2 separate regions of the Homo sapiens genome follow, and region 1 is linked to region 2. Evidence: fine-mapped expression QTL. Tissue or cell type: whole blood. Region 2 holds a variant in brackets; the other region holds the start of a gene. All regions are shown on one strand. Distances are between the middles of the regions. Region 1 holds the start of KRT77 (keratin 77). Region 2 has its middle 20 kb from the start of KRT77.

Evidence for each region. PIP is the estimated chance that this variant, and not a neighbour inherited with it, causes the effect.
Region 1: KRT77 starts here. The variant in region 2 is fine-mapped to the expression of KRT77 in whole blood (INTERVAL, PIP above 0.99).

What each region holds. Positions count from the first base shown.
Region 1 is chr12:52,700,068-52,708,907 of GRCh38, reverse strand. It overlaps KRT77 (keratin 77), which reads left to right and starts at 5,384. Exons shown (of 9, transcript NM_175078.3): 1 at 5,384-6,016. The coding sequence starts at 5,474. RefSeq lists an enhancer at 7,142-7,311.
Region 2 is chr12:52,718,947-52,727,786 of GRCh38, reverse strand. It overlaps the pseudogene KRT126P. Among named protein-coding and RNA genes, the nearest start is that of KRT77, 20 kb to the right of the region's middle. The variant A/G (reference allele first, on the strand shown) is at 3,952.

The DNA.
Region 1 (8,840 bases), 19 kb after region 2:
AATCTCCATTCCACTATTTTCATTAGTGTATTCTTTGACAAGATTCTCTTTCCAAGTCTCACTTTCTCCATTTGCAAAATGAACATAGTAAGAATATCTTCCTTATGATGTTGGTATTTAGATTTCACGAGACCTTCCATGTTATAGACAGCACAGTGCATGGTCCATGGAAATCACCTGGTGAAGTTCACTATTATGATAATGATTGTTACTCCTATCTGTGTCCTTAGACTGAATGGAATCTAAAGAGGCTGTTTCATTTGTCCTGTTTCCTCCAGGTCAGTGGTCTCCAAACTTGCTGCACATTAAAACCACCTTTTAAAAATTCTAAAGTCCAGACCATAGCCCCAGACCAATTAAACTCTACTCCTTAGGTGTGGGCCCAGGCACCAGCGATTTTGAAGCTTTCTAGGTGATTCCAGTGTGAGCCAGTTTAGAAACCGCTGCTCTCTGCAGTCTAACCAGCTGAGGAGTTTCTTTTAGGGGTAGTGATTCGTCCTAGGAACATTATTTACCCACTAATATTGATCTGAGTTGAAACACTTCCTTTGAGACAAGCAAAATCTCTCGTGCTTCACTTTAAGTCATTTTTTTTTCTTCTGAGGAAGTAGAGCATAGCTATCACCCTCCACCAAAAGCTCAGTTAGTGGGTGTGTCCCTCCTCCCCTCCCAAGCCCTTCAAGGGATGACAACAGCCCAGCAGGGGCCATCAGCTGACGGGAGGTAGATGACAATGTTGGCATTGAATGCTGAAAGCTGATCATAGACAGAGATCAAAGAAGCTTCCTAAACTCTGCTGTCCGGGACTTCCTTTTTTATGTTATCACAATGGAATATTTTCACATTCAGCATGACAGTATATAGAAACCTGGGCGAGTGCTGAACAAATTCCACTCAAAGACATTGCTGGAGCCCTCTGTGACCGAAGCCAAACTCAGGCCTCAGGGTTTCCCAGTTGCTCCCTCGAGGCAAGGGGGCCTCTTCATGGCTCCCCCATCCCACCCCCTCACATGCCCGTTCCTTTCTCTAGGCCTTGGCACGAGCAGTTTCTCTGGTCCTTCCCAGTCCCAGTCCCTACAACAGAGCACCCTCTCACTGGCCTACAGTACATCCTTCGAGGTTAGCTTGAGCTTGCCTTTGCTTCTGTGAAGCCTTTTCCAGCTGCCTGTCTTTCTAAAAACTCTCATCGCATTCATAGGTCTCAATGCTGTAGCCACAGCCACACAATAACACCTCTCGTAAGAGCAAGCCTTTTAAAATATTTGTTGTCTTCAAGTGCTCTATTTAAGGGTCAGATGAATAGCGTTCAGGGAACTCAGTGATTAGTTCAATCATAAAACTGGTACATGGGGGGAGCTGGGCTTTAACTCCAGGGGCACTTAATTGTGGGGCCCAAGCTCTTGGTTCTCTAAGCTGTCCACGTCTCTTTACTTTAGCTCAGTCATGAAGGCCTTTGTTATTGGCCCACTCTGCCCAGCAGTTGCAGGAAGAAAGGGGCTCCTGGTCCATGAAGTCTTGTCCCAACAGCAAGGAGCTTCCTGTTTGTTTAGGTGGCAGTAGAGACAGATGCGAAGGGGTTAATTATGTGTATTCTTCATGAGGAGGAGGTGGGGTTGAAAGTGAGTGGTGCAGCCGGAGAGAGAGGTGGGTTCACAGGGAGGGGTTGGGGAACAGAACCTCACTTGTGTGACTCCTTGGGGCTTGCAAAGTGCTCTTCCATATTTGTTCATAGCCATTCATTACTATCACTCTACAAAGCTGTTATTTTATATATATATATATTTTGAGACAGAGTCTCCCTCTGTTGCCCAGGCTGGAGCACAGTGGCGCCATCTCGGCTCACTGCAACCCCTACCTCCCAGGTTCAAGCGATTCTCCTGCCTCAGCCTCCGAAGTAGCTGGGATTATATATTTTTGTGTTTTTAGTAGAGACGAGGTTTCACTATGTTGGCCAGGCTGGTCTCAAAACTCCTGACCTCAGGTGAGCCACCCACCTCTGCCTCCAAAAGTGCTGGGATTACAGGTGTGAGCCACTGTGCCCGCCTGGTTACTATTTTCTTTATTTTAGAGGTCAGGAAACTGAGGTTCAAGGAGTCAAGTGTCCCAGCCATGGGGCTAGGAGGGGGCGGAGCCAGGAGTCAGAGCTGGGTTTCAAGATGCCCAACTCAAGGATCTGTTCGCCACACCACTGCTGTTTCCTGTCTGGTACTTACTGTCCCTTCTCCTATCAGCCCCCATTTTCTCAGCCAGACCCCTACTTCTTCCCCCTGCTCTGTTCTTTCTGCCTCTCCTCTGATATCTGACTCAGAATCCTGGTCTTCAGGCAGCTTTCTCACATGAACCCACCCCTTTCCCTAGCTTCACCTCTCTTTCCTTCCTCTGCTTCTACTGGTTCTCTCCTTGTCACTCTGTGCTGGAGGCTAGGCCCTGGCTTCCCTCTCTTACCTTAGGGTTAGGAGTATGGCTGTGTGGACCATAGGTGCCTAGGACTAGGGTGACCAACTGTTCTGATTTGCCCAGGTATATCTTGGTTTAAGTACTGAAAATCCTAGGCAAAGCAGGACAGCTGTCATCCCACCAGGATCTGTGAGCAGCTATTTCTGCTTGTTTAGTGATTCCAGTGCTCTGCTTTTTTCTCCCCACATGACTTATATATAGCTTTGAATCCTTGAGAAATAGACACTTTGGTTCCTTAAGTGTCTGAGAGGCTCTAGGTTCCTTAAGTGTCTGAGGCTCTAGACACAACCAGCAAGCAGCAGAGCTTCTGCCTATAAATTTCAGGCTCATTGTCTCCTCTATCACACAGTGTCTCCTGGATGACCCACTGAACAGATACCATGTACGGAATGCAGAGGTTCATGAGAAGAGGGTGTGGAAGCTTGGAATTGCCCTTGGAGCATTTCCCTGTACCAGGATGACTTTTCACTGCGGCGCCCCCACAGTGCTCTTGTTTCTACCACCTGTTCTTCCCCACCTCTATTGGGATTTCTGCCACAACTTTCTTTTTTTTTTTGAGGTGGAGTTTCACTCTTGTTGCCCAGGCTAGAGTGCAATGGTGCAATCTCGGCTCACCACAACCTCTGCCTCTTGGGTTCAAGTGATTCTACTGCCTCAGCCTCCCAAGTGGCTGGGATTACAGATGTGCCACCATGCCCGGCTAATTTTTTGTATTTTTAGTAGAGATGGCATTCTCCATGTTGGTCAGGCTGGTCTCGAACTCCTAACCTCAGGTGATCCGCCTGCCTTGGCTTCCAAAAGTGCTGGGATTAAAGGCGTGAGCAAAAAATATTTATTGCAATGAACATAAAGAAAAAGGACATTTAAAACACCAGGAAAATTCAGCCGGGCACAGTAGCTCACGCCTGTAATCCCAGCACTTTGGGAGGCTGAGGCAGGTGGATCACCTGAGGTCAGGAGTTCTAGACCAGGCTGGCCAATATGGTGAAACCCTGTCTTTATTAAAAATACAAAAAATTAGCCAGGCGTGGTGGTAGGCACCTGCAATCCCAGTTACTCAGGAGGCTGAGACAGGAGAATCGCTTGAACCCAGGAGGCAGAGGTTGCAGCGAGCCAAGATTGTGCCACTGCACTCCAGCCAGGGCAACAGTGCAAGACTCTGTCTCAAAAAAATAAGCAAACAAACAAAAGAACCTAGGAAAACTCCTCCCACAGTCTCTAAATAAATCAACTCACTTTCTAGTTACTCACAAAGTCTGTCTTATCTGCATTTTTTTTTTTTTTTTTGAGAGAGGGTCTCATTCTCTTGCCCAGGCTGGAGTGCAGTGGCACGATAAGGGCTCACTGCAGCCTTGACCTCCCAGGCTCAAGTGATCCTCCTACCTCAGCCCCCCTGACCCGTGGGAGCTGGGACTACAGGAGTGTGCTACCACACCTGGTTAATTTTTTGTATTTTCAGTAGAGATGGGGTTTCGCCATATTGGCCAGGCTGGTTTTGAACTCCTGGGCTCAAGTGATCTGCTTGCCTTGGCCTCCCACAGTGCTGGGATTACAGGAGTGAGCTATTGCACCCGGCCTTCTGCATTCTTAATTCTTATGAGTTCACAGCGCAGACTCCATCATGTAGTCTGCCCTTTCCCTTTAATATGGTACATAGTATCACAAGTGGTTGCCGGTTCTGCTGCAGAGTCTCCAACAAGATGATTTAAAATAATTGTATCCAATTGGGCAAGCCATCGCTTAGCCATTTTTCTAAGGCTGGAGAGTTTTTCCCCAAGTTAAAAAAATTATTATTACATTTTGGATGAAAGCCACAGCTATTTGAGTCCAGAGGGAAAACGCACATTTTTTTGTTGGCGGACACTGATGCTCACTGAATGAGCTTTTCCCCAGGATGCTGTCTGGGACGTGCTTCTCAGAGGGTGAGCACAGATTAGTGCTGGTCTACCGTGCTTTGCTATTGCCTTGTGGTAAGCACAGAATTTGAGAGTAACCATTTAGAAAATTATTATTATTGTTGCTATTTTTAGCAGTTAAACAATGTTTTGTTTGCTGAATCTAAAAATAAAAAAAATTTGGGCTTGCATTTTGTATATCTTTTTTAAAAAATTATCTTTAGGAGGTAATTCCTTTAATTCTATTTTACAAAAGTATTGTCTATAAAGAACCGGAAATGATAAAACAGAAAGAGAGATAGTTAGGGATGGTTTGTCTTCTGGTCTAGAAGACAATATTAGGTACTGGTAGATGCTCAACAAATCTATAACCACAGACTTTTGGTGCTGAAGTACCTTGTGTGGTTTTGTGTTTGAGAAGTCTGAGGCTTATCAAGCAGCACACAATGTGAATGACCTTGGGCAGAATCTGTGGGCCTCCACTTGTACTCAGTGACCACAATATTGCACTTCCATGTGATAAAATTTTGGGTGCTCATGGTGATGATAACTGCAGGGAGCAGAAGCAGTGTGTGGGGAGATTGGAACAAAACTTTTGCCCCACCAGGACGATGCTGTGACAGAAAGTGTTTCCACCTCTGTCCCAGCTATGGTCCTGAGGTCTCTAAACACCATCTAACTTTGCCCCAGATCTCCCAGGCACATCCCAGAAACAAACAACTCGATGGTGGAGTTTCTTAGGAAGAGATGAACTGATGATTTGGGGAGAATCTGTATAGAAGTTTCCAGCAATGAGATCCTGAGAGATTCTTGCATTCTGATCTCTAAATGGCAAGAGATGAATGATAAATGATCGAGTTGGGGAAGTTTGTCTGCAATCTGATTTCTGCAACTCACAGGTGTGAGGTTTTAAACAGATGTTGCTGGCAGGCAAACTAAACATTAATACTCCCCTTTCAGGATTGTAAAGGTGCCCAGCCCAGTAATGTGTGTGTGTGTGTATATATATAGAGCCGGAGCCAGATCTTTTCAAAGGAGTCAGAGCTCCTTTCCTCTCTGGTCTCTGCCTCCTTCCTGCCAGGCTCTTTCTCTTGCCTGCTTCTCTGGATGCTCCAGCAAACATGAGCCACCAATTTAGTTCTCAGTCCGCGTTTAGTTCAATGAGCAGGCGGGTTTATAGTACCAGCTCTTCTGCAGGCTCTGGTGGTGGGAGTCCGGCAGTGGGTTCTGTGTGTTATGCTCGAGGGAGGTGTGGTGGTGGTGGATATGGGATCCATGGAAGGGGGTTTGGCTCTAGGAGCCTCTACAATCTGGGTGGCAGTAGAAGCATCTCCATTAATCTAATGGGGAGGAGCACCAGTGGTTTCTGCCAGGGTGGGGGAGTAGGGGGATTTGGAGGGGGCAGAGGCTTTGGGGTTGGCAGCACCGGGGCTGGTGGCTTTGGAGGAGGTGGTTTTGGGGGTGCTGGATTTGGGACTAGCAATTTTGGGCTTGGGGGCTTTGGTCCTTATTGTCCTCCTGGGGGCATCCAAGAGGTGACCATTAACCAGAGCCTCCTAGAGCCACTTCACCTGGAGGTGGACCCTGAAATTCAGAGGATCAAGACCCAGGAGCGGGAGCAGATTATGGTTCTCAACAACAAGTTTGCCTCCTTCATTGACAAGGTGAGCACCTCAGGGGCAGGGAGGGTCATTGGTCACTGACCAAATGACTGAGAGAGATTACACCTTACCACCTCTCACCACATCGTGCTGTTTCAGCTTGACCTGGGACCTTAGAAAATCATTTACCCATTTGGGCTTCAATTTGTCTTCTTGCAGGGATTTAATTCCATCTTTTCCTTTTGGCAGGAAAGGAGATAAGCAGTGTTAAAATACTCAACAGATACATGGTGTAGTACCCTCATTCTCATTCATAATTATTCACTTTCCATCCACCCATCCACCCATGCACCCATCTATCCATCCCCATCCACACAATCCATTTATACACACACACACAAACACACACACACACACACACACACACATCCATCCATTCACTTATTCATCAATCCACCCAACTATCCACCCTTCCGTCCATCCATCCATCCACCCACCCATCCACACAATCCATTTATACACACACACACACACATGCACACACACACACGTGTTCATCTGTTCATTCACTCATCCATCAATCCATTCAACTATCCACTCATGCATCCATCCACCCATCTAGCCCACAAATATTTTCTAAGAATCTATGATAGGCCAGACATCGTGCCAGGTGCTACAGGTGACTAGGACACAGGTCCTGCCATCAAGGAGCCCACGTCTAAAGGGGAGAGAATTACTACAGTGTATGTGAAGTGTGTCAATAGGGGTAGTACTCTCTGGGCCATGGTAGCTCAAAGGAGGGTGTCATGAGCTCTGCTTGCTGAGTCTGGAAGGCGGATGAAAAGTTAAATGGGTTCTAATTTTAGTATATGTGCTGCCGAAGTGAGCACGAGTTAAATGGGTTCTCAGGGCAGAGGGGATTTTCAGGCAGAAGGACCAGGAGGCATGAAAGCGTGACGCGTTTAGGGAATTTCAAACAGTTACAATTCCTGGAGAAAATGGGATACCAAGGGGTGGAGGAGAGAAGTGGAGATGAAGCCACAGAGCCAGGGCAGGAGAAGCAGGCAGGGCATGGTGAATGCCCTGGTGGTGGGTATCTCTTGGGGCTAAAGTCAATAGCATGCAATGTAGGGTTCTGTCTGAGTTTCCCCTTTTGGCTCATCAAGGGCCAAGGATGGGCCAGATGGAGACACAGAAGCCCCTGTCCCTAGTTCCCTGTTGAAACTTCAGATTAGGTCCAAAGCAGCAGCAGAGGCTGGAGAACTCGCCATGGTGAAGACCTCCCTCCAGCATCTCCTTTTGTCTGGAGGTCGAGGCACAGCGGCCACTAGCACCTCCCCAGGAGGAACTTTGCCTTCAGGGATGCAGTGGGAAGCCCCACAGAGCACCAAGGCCGCTTGCACACTCAGTGACTTTCCCTCAGTCCCCACGGGAGTTCAGTGCTGAGGCCAGAGCTTGACCTGTGGCCTGACTGCAGGGTAGCTGTGGCTAGAGGCCATACTGGGTGGCAGGGCAGGCCTCTGATATCTGAGCAGATGCTGGGGATGGGACAGTGTGTGAGCGGGCGGAGGAGGGTGAGAGTGCTGAGGCCCAGAGGCTGCCGAAGAGGAGCGCAACACAGCAGCGTGCTCCCGTGGCTTCCGATCATGCTGCGTGGGAAATTTGGCTGAGTATCACCACGCTTCAGGCAAAGGCAGGGGTTAGAGGGTTTCACTGGAGCAAGGAGTCACTACTCGGAGGTCACGGCTGGGCCAAGAGAGGAGCAGGGAGGAGAAAGGGCTGGGAAATGACCACAGGCCGCTGGCAACTGACCTCCTGAGGCTCATCTGATTATGGCCCCTGCCATGAACAGGGTCTGTCCAGTTGCATGGCATAGGGCAGTGGGCAGAGGCTAGGGTGCAAGAGACCTGGGCCTCCTGTCCTTCGAAGGGCATGGCCTATGATGACTATGAGGAGAGGCTTCTCAGCCAGGTGGGCTGTGGCCTGGCTGGAAGGAAGAAGGCTTCTATGACAGGTGACTTCTGACTCTGCTTTCCAAACTGGTCTTCCTGCTTTCACCCTTGACCCTGTATAGCCTATACTTGACACCACAGCAGAGCCATCCTTTAAAAGCATGTCACGACACTCCTCCATTTGAATCCTCCAGTGGCTTCTTGTCTCGACTGAAAGAAAAGCCCAAGTCCTACAAGGCCCTATATTACTTGCCCTTCAACCCGCAGCTGCTGCTAAGCCCACACTTGCATTTGTGGAATCAGGCCACGTTGCCCTCACTGGGTGGAACAGCTTTCGGGATACAATGGCTAGTAAGCAGAGTGAGGCCTGGAAAACAGCCCCCAGGCTTCCAACTCATTGTTGTCTGCAGCCTCCTGTGCCCCTCTGCCTCCTCTCCTGCTCTCTTCTTGCTCACCAGCATCCAAGGCTCAGTTCTGTCTCAAGGTCTTTGCACCTACCATTCCCTCTGCATGGAACTCTTCCCCCGAGAGAGAGGCCCACCTTCCTCCCTCACCTTCTGTGGGTCTTTGCTCAGATGCCACAGTTTCAGTGGGGCCTTCCCTGACCACCACTTCAGTGTTCCTATGCCCCGGCCCTGTGTGACTCCATAGTCCCTGCAGCCATCTGAGGCACTGTATTTTTTACATGATTATTTCTTTATAGTAATCTCTCTAAATAGAATGCAAACTCCTGGAAAGCAGGGATTTTGCCTGTTTTTTTTATTACCAAATCCCTAGCACCCAGAATAGTGCCTGACATATGAGAATTGCTCAATAAATAGAAACCGGATGACAAATTGGGTCAGCCCCTCAGGGGTCAGTGCTGGACGCTCAGAGAGTGGAAATGGAGCCAAAGGCTTTCTAGAACCAATGACAAGGGGACAGGGCCTCAGAAA
Region 2 (8,840 bases):
CCCACCTCTCCCTGCCTTTTCATGTTCTTAATGATGTGCTCCAAAGGTGCCTGCCCCTTGGAGTCCCTGCTGATTGGTAAGTGGCGCTTCCCAATCAGCAGCATTTGTACCTGTATCTAGAGCTGAGTGCTTGGCTCAGCCCTTGGACTAGATCCAACTCTATGTCCTGTGTGAAGACAAGTGACTCTCTCTTACCCTTCCCCTAGCCTTTTATAAAAATGGGGACATTTTCTCCTTTAGTAAAATTGCTTACATTCTGGGAATTAGTCCATCAGAATTAAAGCAAACTGGAGCTTTAAAAAAATCCAGGTGCCCGGGCCATGCTCCCTGATTCTGATTCAGGAGACCAGAAGTAGGGCTTCAGGATCTGGATTTTTAAAAGCTGCCCAGTGGTCCTGATGTGTAGCTGCCCACAGAGCAAAGTCCCAAATCTGCAGCATAGCACAAAGAGACCAATGCAATCAGTTTCAACCTACACCTTCAGCTCCTTCCCCATCATCTCTCCTCCTCCATTATGACGCCTATACTGAACATGTGGGATGCCTTACCAATACTTCCCCCACCACATTAGATTTCCCTCTCTCTACCAGTGGTGTCTTTTTTGAATTGTCCACCCACTGGGCCCACTCCGACCCCTCCCTCAGTACGCTACTCAAAATTACCTCCTCTATGATGCCTTCAATAGCCTTTCTTCCTCTCACACCTTAGTACTTTGATCTACTGTCAATAACGCTGACTCCAATGTGCTCTAAGGTGTTATTTACATGCCTGGTACTTCCTTCAACAAAACTGTAGGCTCCCCCAGACCATGAACTGTATTTTGTGTGTCATTGTCTTCTACTGGGAAGCCTTCTGCTGACACAAGCAAGTGCTCCACGAATCATTGCTGAGTGATTGAATAAATGTTTGGAGAGATGACTAAATGGATACTGGTCAATGTTGCATCTCTTAGAGGGAATGAAGTTCTAGGGGAAACCCTTCTGGACACTCCTTCTTGGATTCTCTGAACAGAACGCAGGAGCACCCATTATGCCTGACTCTAGATCCCTGCTCCAATTTTCATGCTTCTTGGCAGAAACCAGAGCCAGTGGTTGGGTTGAGATGGCTTCTACTTTCTGACTGCATCAGTTTTAAACCTACTTCATGCTTAATGCTTTTGTCATTTTCATTTGGGGCTACAGGTTGTATGAAAGTATTTTGTCTGTGAGTCACAGAGGGTGTGTGTCTGTGTGTGGCATGTTTGCCCATTGGTCTGTCAGGGTAGATAAATGAAAGGACTTTAACAAGTTCAAGACACTCCACAAATGCCAGATACTATTAAGTGTCATGTACACGTGTGAGGCTATGGCTTGGCTTTTTTAGGAACCAAGAACTTTCTGAATTGTATAAGTTTGGCTGGGAGCTGGGTGGGTGTATGTGCCGGGTATGGGGCCTGCCCTCCCATGGCTTCTACACTGGTTGAGAAGTAAGGATATTTTTCTTTGACTTATAGACACCATAGGGACAATGAGTGTCCCAGGAGCTTGAGGCCAGGAGAGCTCAGGGGGCCAGGCTGGTCATATGAGGCATCGTGTTGGGGCTGGGACTTTGGCTGGTTCCTAAATGAGTTGGCTTAGGGTGGAAGGGAAATGGTTTTAGGTCTAGACTGTGGCCCTCTCCTGGCCCATCAGCTTGCATAATCACACCCTTGATCCTGCTGAGGAAGGAGCAAGCTGGGGCAGCACAAACCATCCCCTTTGCTGGGAAAACCATGCAAAGTGCCCTTCTAAGGACTATGCTTAGAGAAGCACGGAGTCCTGTTTGTGCCTTTTCTATCAATTCCACACCACTTTGCAAACATGATCAAATACAGGTCAATTGCTCAGAGTCAGGGCTTGTTCTGTAAGCTGAGAACTTACAGACACAGAAGGAAGGGACAGACACAGAACATCCTGCCAGTGCCTGCACAAGGAGCCTTTCCAGAGCTCTGAGTCGTATATGCCTCAGTCCGTAGCATGTGCTCCAGGCTGGGACAGAAACTGAACTGGAGGCTTGGCTCTGCCACTTATTGGCTGTGGGCCCCTGGAAAAGTTGTTTAACTCCTTAGCCTCAGTTTCCCTCATCTGTAAAAAAAGAGCTAGAGGGTTGCCATGAAGGTTGAAAAAGTCTATAAGTGTCAATTTAGAGCCTGCTACCTGGCTAGCATTCTACGGCCTGACTCCCTGCTGCCGCTGTGATCCCTCAGTTCCCAAGGCGCTCCTGCTTTCTAGTTTATAAGGCCCTTTTTGTACTTCACTCACCTGGCCCTTGATGGGCTCAGGAGTAGAGGCTCAACAGGCAGAGAAGAGGTTTATCAGCTCTACTTTACAATGGGCTAAAAGGAGGCCCAGAGGAGCCTGGAGACTGGAACTTGGGGCTCTTGCCTTTATCCAGGGTGCTTTCCATGGCATTGTTCTGCCCGCCTCCTGGGGTAGGTAGGTCTGCGCACATTGAAGAGGCTGCCTCACTCCCTGGGCCTTCTCCTTCTGGGCTGGGCCAAGTTTCGAGCTGCAGCTGCCTGGCCCAAGACCTTTTTTCCTAAGTTTCAGATGCCATGAGGCTGGCCCTCTTCAATGAGACTCAGCTCAGAGGTCACCTGGTATTGAAGAACAGTTTCTGGCCAGGCCCGGTGGTTCACACCTCTAATCCCAGCGCTTTGGGAGGCCAAGGCAGGTGGATAACCGAGGTCAGGAGTTTGAGACTAGCCTGGCCAATATGGCGAAATCCCATCTCTACAAAATTACAAAAATTAGCCAGGCATGGTGGTGGCTGCCTGTAGTCCCAGCTACTTGGGAGGCCTAGGCAAGAGAATCAATTGAACCCAGGAGGCAGAGGTTGTAGTGAGCGGAGATCACACCACTGCACTCTAGCCGGGGTGATAGAGTGAGACTCCATTTAAACAAAACAAAACAAAACCAACAATTTCTTATGGAACAGATTCCCCTTTGACTGCAGGGCACAGAGTGGGACAGTCTGCCCAGGGAACCAGAGCTGAACTCCTCCTGGCTCATGCCCAATCTGCCCCAGGGCCCCATCCATGTGCTCCCCTTGAAGCCTCCCACACACACAACTCTGTCCCAACTCTGCTCTCCCCACTTGCCCTCCCTGGCCCAGCATCATCTGCCAACTGCCATGCCATGTACTGTCAAGCTCTGGCCTCAGCCCTGGGTGCTGCATTTGAGGGCCCCATTTCCCTGAGAAGCTGGGACTGCCTCATGGCAGGAACAATGGCAGATGCGGTTGTTCCTCTGCCCTTGGACTCCACTGGTGAGGGCACTGCTGCCCCAGAGCAGAGGGGCCTCGGTCAGGTGCCAGCCTGGGAGGCATAGCCATGGCCACGGAGAGGAGGGAGGGCAGGGCTCAGTGTCTCTCCTGGGGCCTCTGTGCCCTCATCCCCAGGAAAGGCCCGTATGGTTTAATTCTAGGGTTGGCGACTCCCTGGCTAGCAGTGCACTCTAATTTTTTTGAAGAGGCAACAGAGGAGAATAGCTGGACTTTTCTAGTTTGCAGGTGTGGGGGATTGGTGGGATTTGCCACTGCTAATGAAGGGATTTGGGATGGGTCCTCATTAGAGCCCCAACTTCCACCCTAATCTCTTTGGGATTTGTTCTTGATGTTAAAATGCAAACTGACTTCTTTGCGTATTCAGACTGGGCCAGGTCATTGGCAGTGGCCAAGGGGTGGAAACCAGTGAATTGTTCTGCAGAGTTCCCCTTCAATAGCAAGGATTTACAAATGGCAAGTGGGGGACAGGAGGATGGTGGGACACCTTTTCTCATTTGCTCCTGGGGCCTCTCTTGACAAAAGCATAGGCCACACTTGGAAACCAAAACATGACTTGGATTTTGGAGTCAGGATCCGCCCCATATGTGAGCAAAGACAGCGGTTTTATGTTATGTTGCTGAGCCCCACCATCAGCACGGGAAGTGATCC[A/G]GAGGGCAATGGGCCCAGGAGTTTCCAAATTGTTTTTAAACAGCAGAGTCTTTCATTTCAGAGATCAGCATGGAGGTGTCAGGGTGGCAGTGGTGATGAGACCAGAACACTGCCCACTGCATCCCTTTCTCCCACTCATACCTCATTTGAACCCTGGGGCTTCAGTAGGTCCAACGTGAATCCTCTACTCAAGTCTGAAGCCCTCATTGTGCAGAGGAGGAAACTGAGGCCTGGCAAGGGGAAGACTCAGTGGCTGAGTTGAGTTGGGACCTGGGTCTCCTCTCAGTCTGTGCCCCTATTTGGATCCAGCTGCCATATCTTGGTTTCTTAGGTCAGCAAGGAGCTTTGAGCAAGAATCAGGGCCCTGGGGGATGGGGTAGGCACCAAGGTTTTGAAGGTGGTGAGGACGATGTCTACCTGTGGCACGAAGGGCTGCATGGGGAAGAGTGCCCTGGGCAGGGATTTGTGATGAGCGTGTCCATCCTTGTGGGCATGCCTGTGGTTCTGTGATGTCTGTTTGTGTGTGTGTGTGTGTGTGTGTGTGTGTGTGTTGGTGTGAATTTATGGTGTGTTTTGCTTCTCTCTCTCTCCACCGAGTTCATTCTCTTCCACTTTACTTGAGGGTCTTTCGTGACTTGATGGAGAGGAATAGGGGCTTCCCTGAGGTTTGGCAGGTCACTGGTTTGAACTGGCCCTCCCTCCAGTGAGCTGGCAAGGGAAGAAGGAGGTGCTGAGTGGCTAGGAAGTCAGGTCTGAGCAAAGGGGAGAAGGTGAGATCAATGAGAGAAGGGTTCTTGGATGAGCACGGATCAGAGGGAATTGGAGGTTAGATTAGAAGAGGAAAAGGCAAAGGTCATTTTAAAAGGGGCTGGCCTTTGCAGAGGCTCATTTCCAGCCTTGGTTTGTGCTGTCAGGATTGGTGTCATCAAAGGTAGTCTTTGCTGCCAAAGGTAAGTAGAGGTAAATGTTACAAAAGTGAGTAACATTTCATGTCACACAGAACTTCTTCCAAATATTATGCCCCTAACAGACTTAAGAAGAAGCCCTTGTTATTCTGAAATTTTACTGGTGAGGATCTGAGCTTCCTAGGTGGTGGGGGTGGTGTCTCACGTGAACTGAAGGAAGAGGGTCTTGGGAATCCTGGATTCATTTTTGTTGTACAAGTTTGGAAGAGGAAAAGCTGATGGTTTTTCTGGCCTGGCCCAAGTGGTCCATTCTCTCTACCCTGCCCAGGCTGGCCTCAGCCCCTCTCTCTGCTCACCCTCTCCTAGGGCACTTGGCAGTGACCTTGACTTCTTCTCCAGCCATGCTCATTCCTGTCCTTGTCAGACTGATTCCTCTCTCCTCCCCTGCAGCTCTCCCTCCAAGGCCCCTTAGAACCCAGTTCTAGGTGTCCCTGTGGCTGAGAACTTGCTCTTTGTGCATTCATATGTGCACCTCCTCCCTGAAGGATGAGGTCCTAGAGGCAGCTGCTGTGCATTCTTGAACTTCTGTTGCAACTTCCTTCTCCTTGTCAGCCACAACGTCACCTTCACAGCCCTCCCCCGTCCTCTCCTTTCTTCCTTGGAGTCCTTGCCTGGGGTCCTGCCCCCACTGGGGCTGTGCACCCATCCTGGGAACCTCCTGAGGCTGGCTGGTCTGGCTGAGTGGCTGAGGGGCAGAGAAGTGCTGACCTGTCACTCTCAGCATGGGGTCATAGATCTCTTGGGGATTAAGGGTTGTGTCCAGCCCTACAGGATTGTTCCTCTCCCAATTTAAGGTTATTTCAGGGAAGTAACCCTGGGAAAACAAAGTAATTTGGAAATTTGGAGGGATTATCAAGGTGTGTTGCATATTTTGAACTCGACCTCTTGCTGCCAGGCAAACCAAAGCTGCTAATACCTCAGTTAGGTGGCTGGCACCATCAGCCAGCCAAGCTCCCAGGCTCTACATAAGGGCCATCCCCATCCCAGAACTTCAGAAGGCTTCTGAGTTTCCTCCAGCCTTCTGAGCCCACCCTTCCTTTGGAAGACCTTGCTGTCTGCCATGAGTCGCCAGATAAGCTACAGCCAGCAGCCCTGCAGGTCTTCTGGTGGGGCCTACTGCCAGACCTTCAGCAGCCACTTAGCAGTGGTGTCAGGCCACAGCTGGATCAGCTCCATCATGTCCTCCTTTGCCTCCAGCTCAGGAAGGGCTGGTGGTGGGTGGGTCTGCTGCCTGTGCCATGATGGGGGGAGGTTTCTGCAGCCAGAGTCTCCATGGCCTTGGGGGGAAGAAGACGATCCCTATCAGTGTGGCTGGAGGTGGCACCTGGGCTAGTGGGTTCAGCGGGGCTGGTGGGTTCGGGGGGCCTGGTGGGGGATGTTTTGGAGGCAGTGGTTTTGGAGGTGGTGGAAGAGGGATGGGTGGAAGCTTTGGTGGAAGAGCTGGGGGCTTTGGCGGAGGAATTGGAGGCTTCAGAGGAGGAGCCAGGGGTTTCTGCAGAGGAGCTGGTGGCTTTGGTGGTTCTGGAAGCTTTGGTGGTCCTGGTGGCTTTGGTGGCCTCCGTGACCTCAGTGATCTGGGTGGCTTCCTGGGTGGAATCCAGGAAGTGACTGTCAACCAGAGCCTTCTTCAGCCCCTCCAGGAGACTGACCTTAAGTTTGGGCAAGTAAAGGCCCAGAAGCGGGAGCAGATCAAGACCCTCAACAACGTTTGCCTCCTTCATCGACAGGTGAGCCCATCTCAAGCCAGCTAGACAGTGAGGAAATCTGGCTCAGTTGTGTTGGTCTTTTTTTTCCCTCTTCTCCTTATGAGTCTGAGGAAGGAGTTGTGGGTTCACCCAATATGTCAAGCCCTCTGTGGTATCTCAGCAGTAGTGGGCCTGCTTACAGCAGCAACAGGTGAGGAAAACGCTGTAGCCCCTCCCTGGATGGAGGTGCCATCCCTCTGTGTGCCCCGTCCCTCGTCTCCTCAGAGGGGCTGCTGAGGCTGCTGCTCTGGGGACTGCTGGCTGCCATCATTGATGTCTCCTAACCATTGCCTTCTGAAACCCAAACGCAGAACTCCCCCTCCATCTCAGAGGATTTGCAAGCTGCTCGTCTTTGAAAGAGAGGATGACTCTGCCCAAGCTGAATTTGTATTTGAGGGATGAGTCAACCTGCCATCAGCTTTGTGACGTGAGATGAGGGTTAAGGGGCACCTCCTCCTAGGTGCTTCTCATAGGATGATTTTAGTGTGAGGAACTGCAAATGTTGACGGCATGTGAGGCTTGTTTGCACGTATACGTGCAAGGGCCTGGCTGAATGAATGGTTTATGGGGGTGTCTGCGTTCTGGACATTCCATGCAAGGGAAACCATGGCAATGACAGTGGTGACTGTGTGGTGTCTGGGCTTGGTTAGCTGCTGAGAGTGTCATCAGTACTCTTGGGGCACAATGTGTGGAGATCTCTTTGTGACCCTGGGGTAATAGTAGGCCTCACAGAAAGGGCTTGTAGTGATTCTTTGCGGGGTCCCATTTTCATATGTGTCCTGGGCAAAGATGAAGAAGTTAGTCTTAACATTGGAACATCACACCTTTTTAGAGGTGAAGCTCTTGAAAGTTAAGTGACCTTCTAGAGGTACCTAGCTGGTTCCTGGCAGACATCTGGGTGTCTGGATGAATTTATTTACAGAGGCCGGGTGCGTTAGTTCACGCCCGTAATCCTAGCACTCTGGGAGTCTGAGGCAGGTGGACTACTTGAGTCCAGGAGTTTGAGACCAGCCTGGGCAACATAGTGAGACCCTGTCTCTACAAAAAATACAAAAATTAGCCAGGCATGGTGGTGCACACCTGTAGTCTTAGCTACTTGGGGGGCTGAGGAGGGAGAATCGCCTGAGCCCAAGAGGCAGAGGTTGCAGTGAGCCAAGATCACGCCACTGCACTCCAGCCTGGGCAACAGAGTGAGAACCTGTCTCAAAAAAAATTTGTTTACAGAAAAACAGAAAGTGATGCTGAAAATGCAGCTGCGCCACAGCAAGTGGGTTTGGCTGCCCAAGGTCTCAGCAGTAGCCCTTATCATCCTCAAAGGGGCCTTCTGAGATCTTGGAATCCTGAGTGTCTAGTATAAGGCCTGACACTTGCTTGGTGCTCTGCAAATGTTTGTTGAATGACCAGTTGATTGATAGTTACTCCCCTGCTTATATGGCTAGCCTTGAATTTTGTGCAGAAATGTCTCATAGCAAATAAAAGTTTGAGACATCTTTAGCCAGTGGTTAAGTTTAAATGCAGGGCTCAGTTGCATCTAGGATCCTTCTTGGGAAAAGGTCAGCTTGAGAGACATTTCTCTGTGGTTTTCTCTAATTCCCGCCTGAGTGCAGTGTACCCAGGATTGTAAACATCTTTCTGGAGACTGCATCTGCTGTAGAATACTCACTAAGTACCTATGGAGAGCCCATGGTGCTACTGTACTTGCTGTACACAGAGTTGGCACCAGAAAATTCCCCTGAAAGCTCTTGGCAGCTCAGCCATCTCCCTCTGGTCCCATAAATAGTTGAAAAAAATCAAAATTTCTCCAGAAAGCCTTCTAGGATCAATCAGAATAGTATAAGGAAGGGGTATCTACTTCACTGTCCAATTATCATCATCATCATTATTAAGTGGTGCCTGGCACATATTAAGTGCTAGTAAATGTCTGTAGAATGAACTGGGTCTTACCTGAACCCAGAAGGCCATACATTGGAAAGATGCAGGCCTTGGGCTAAACTGGTGGGACAAGAAGCCCTGAATCCATGTGATTCATGGGATGTGCTCTGGGTCCATGGGGATGACTGAGAGAAGGCAGACCACAGGTGACCTTTTTCTCACAGGTATGAAGATGAGGTCAGCAAGTGCACAGCTGCAGAGAATGACTTTGTGGTCCTGAAGAAGGTGAGGGGCCTCTTCCCAGCTT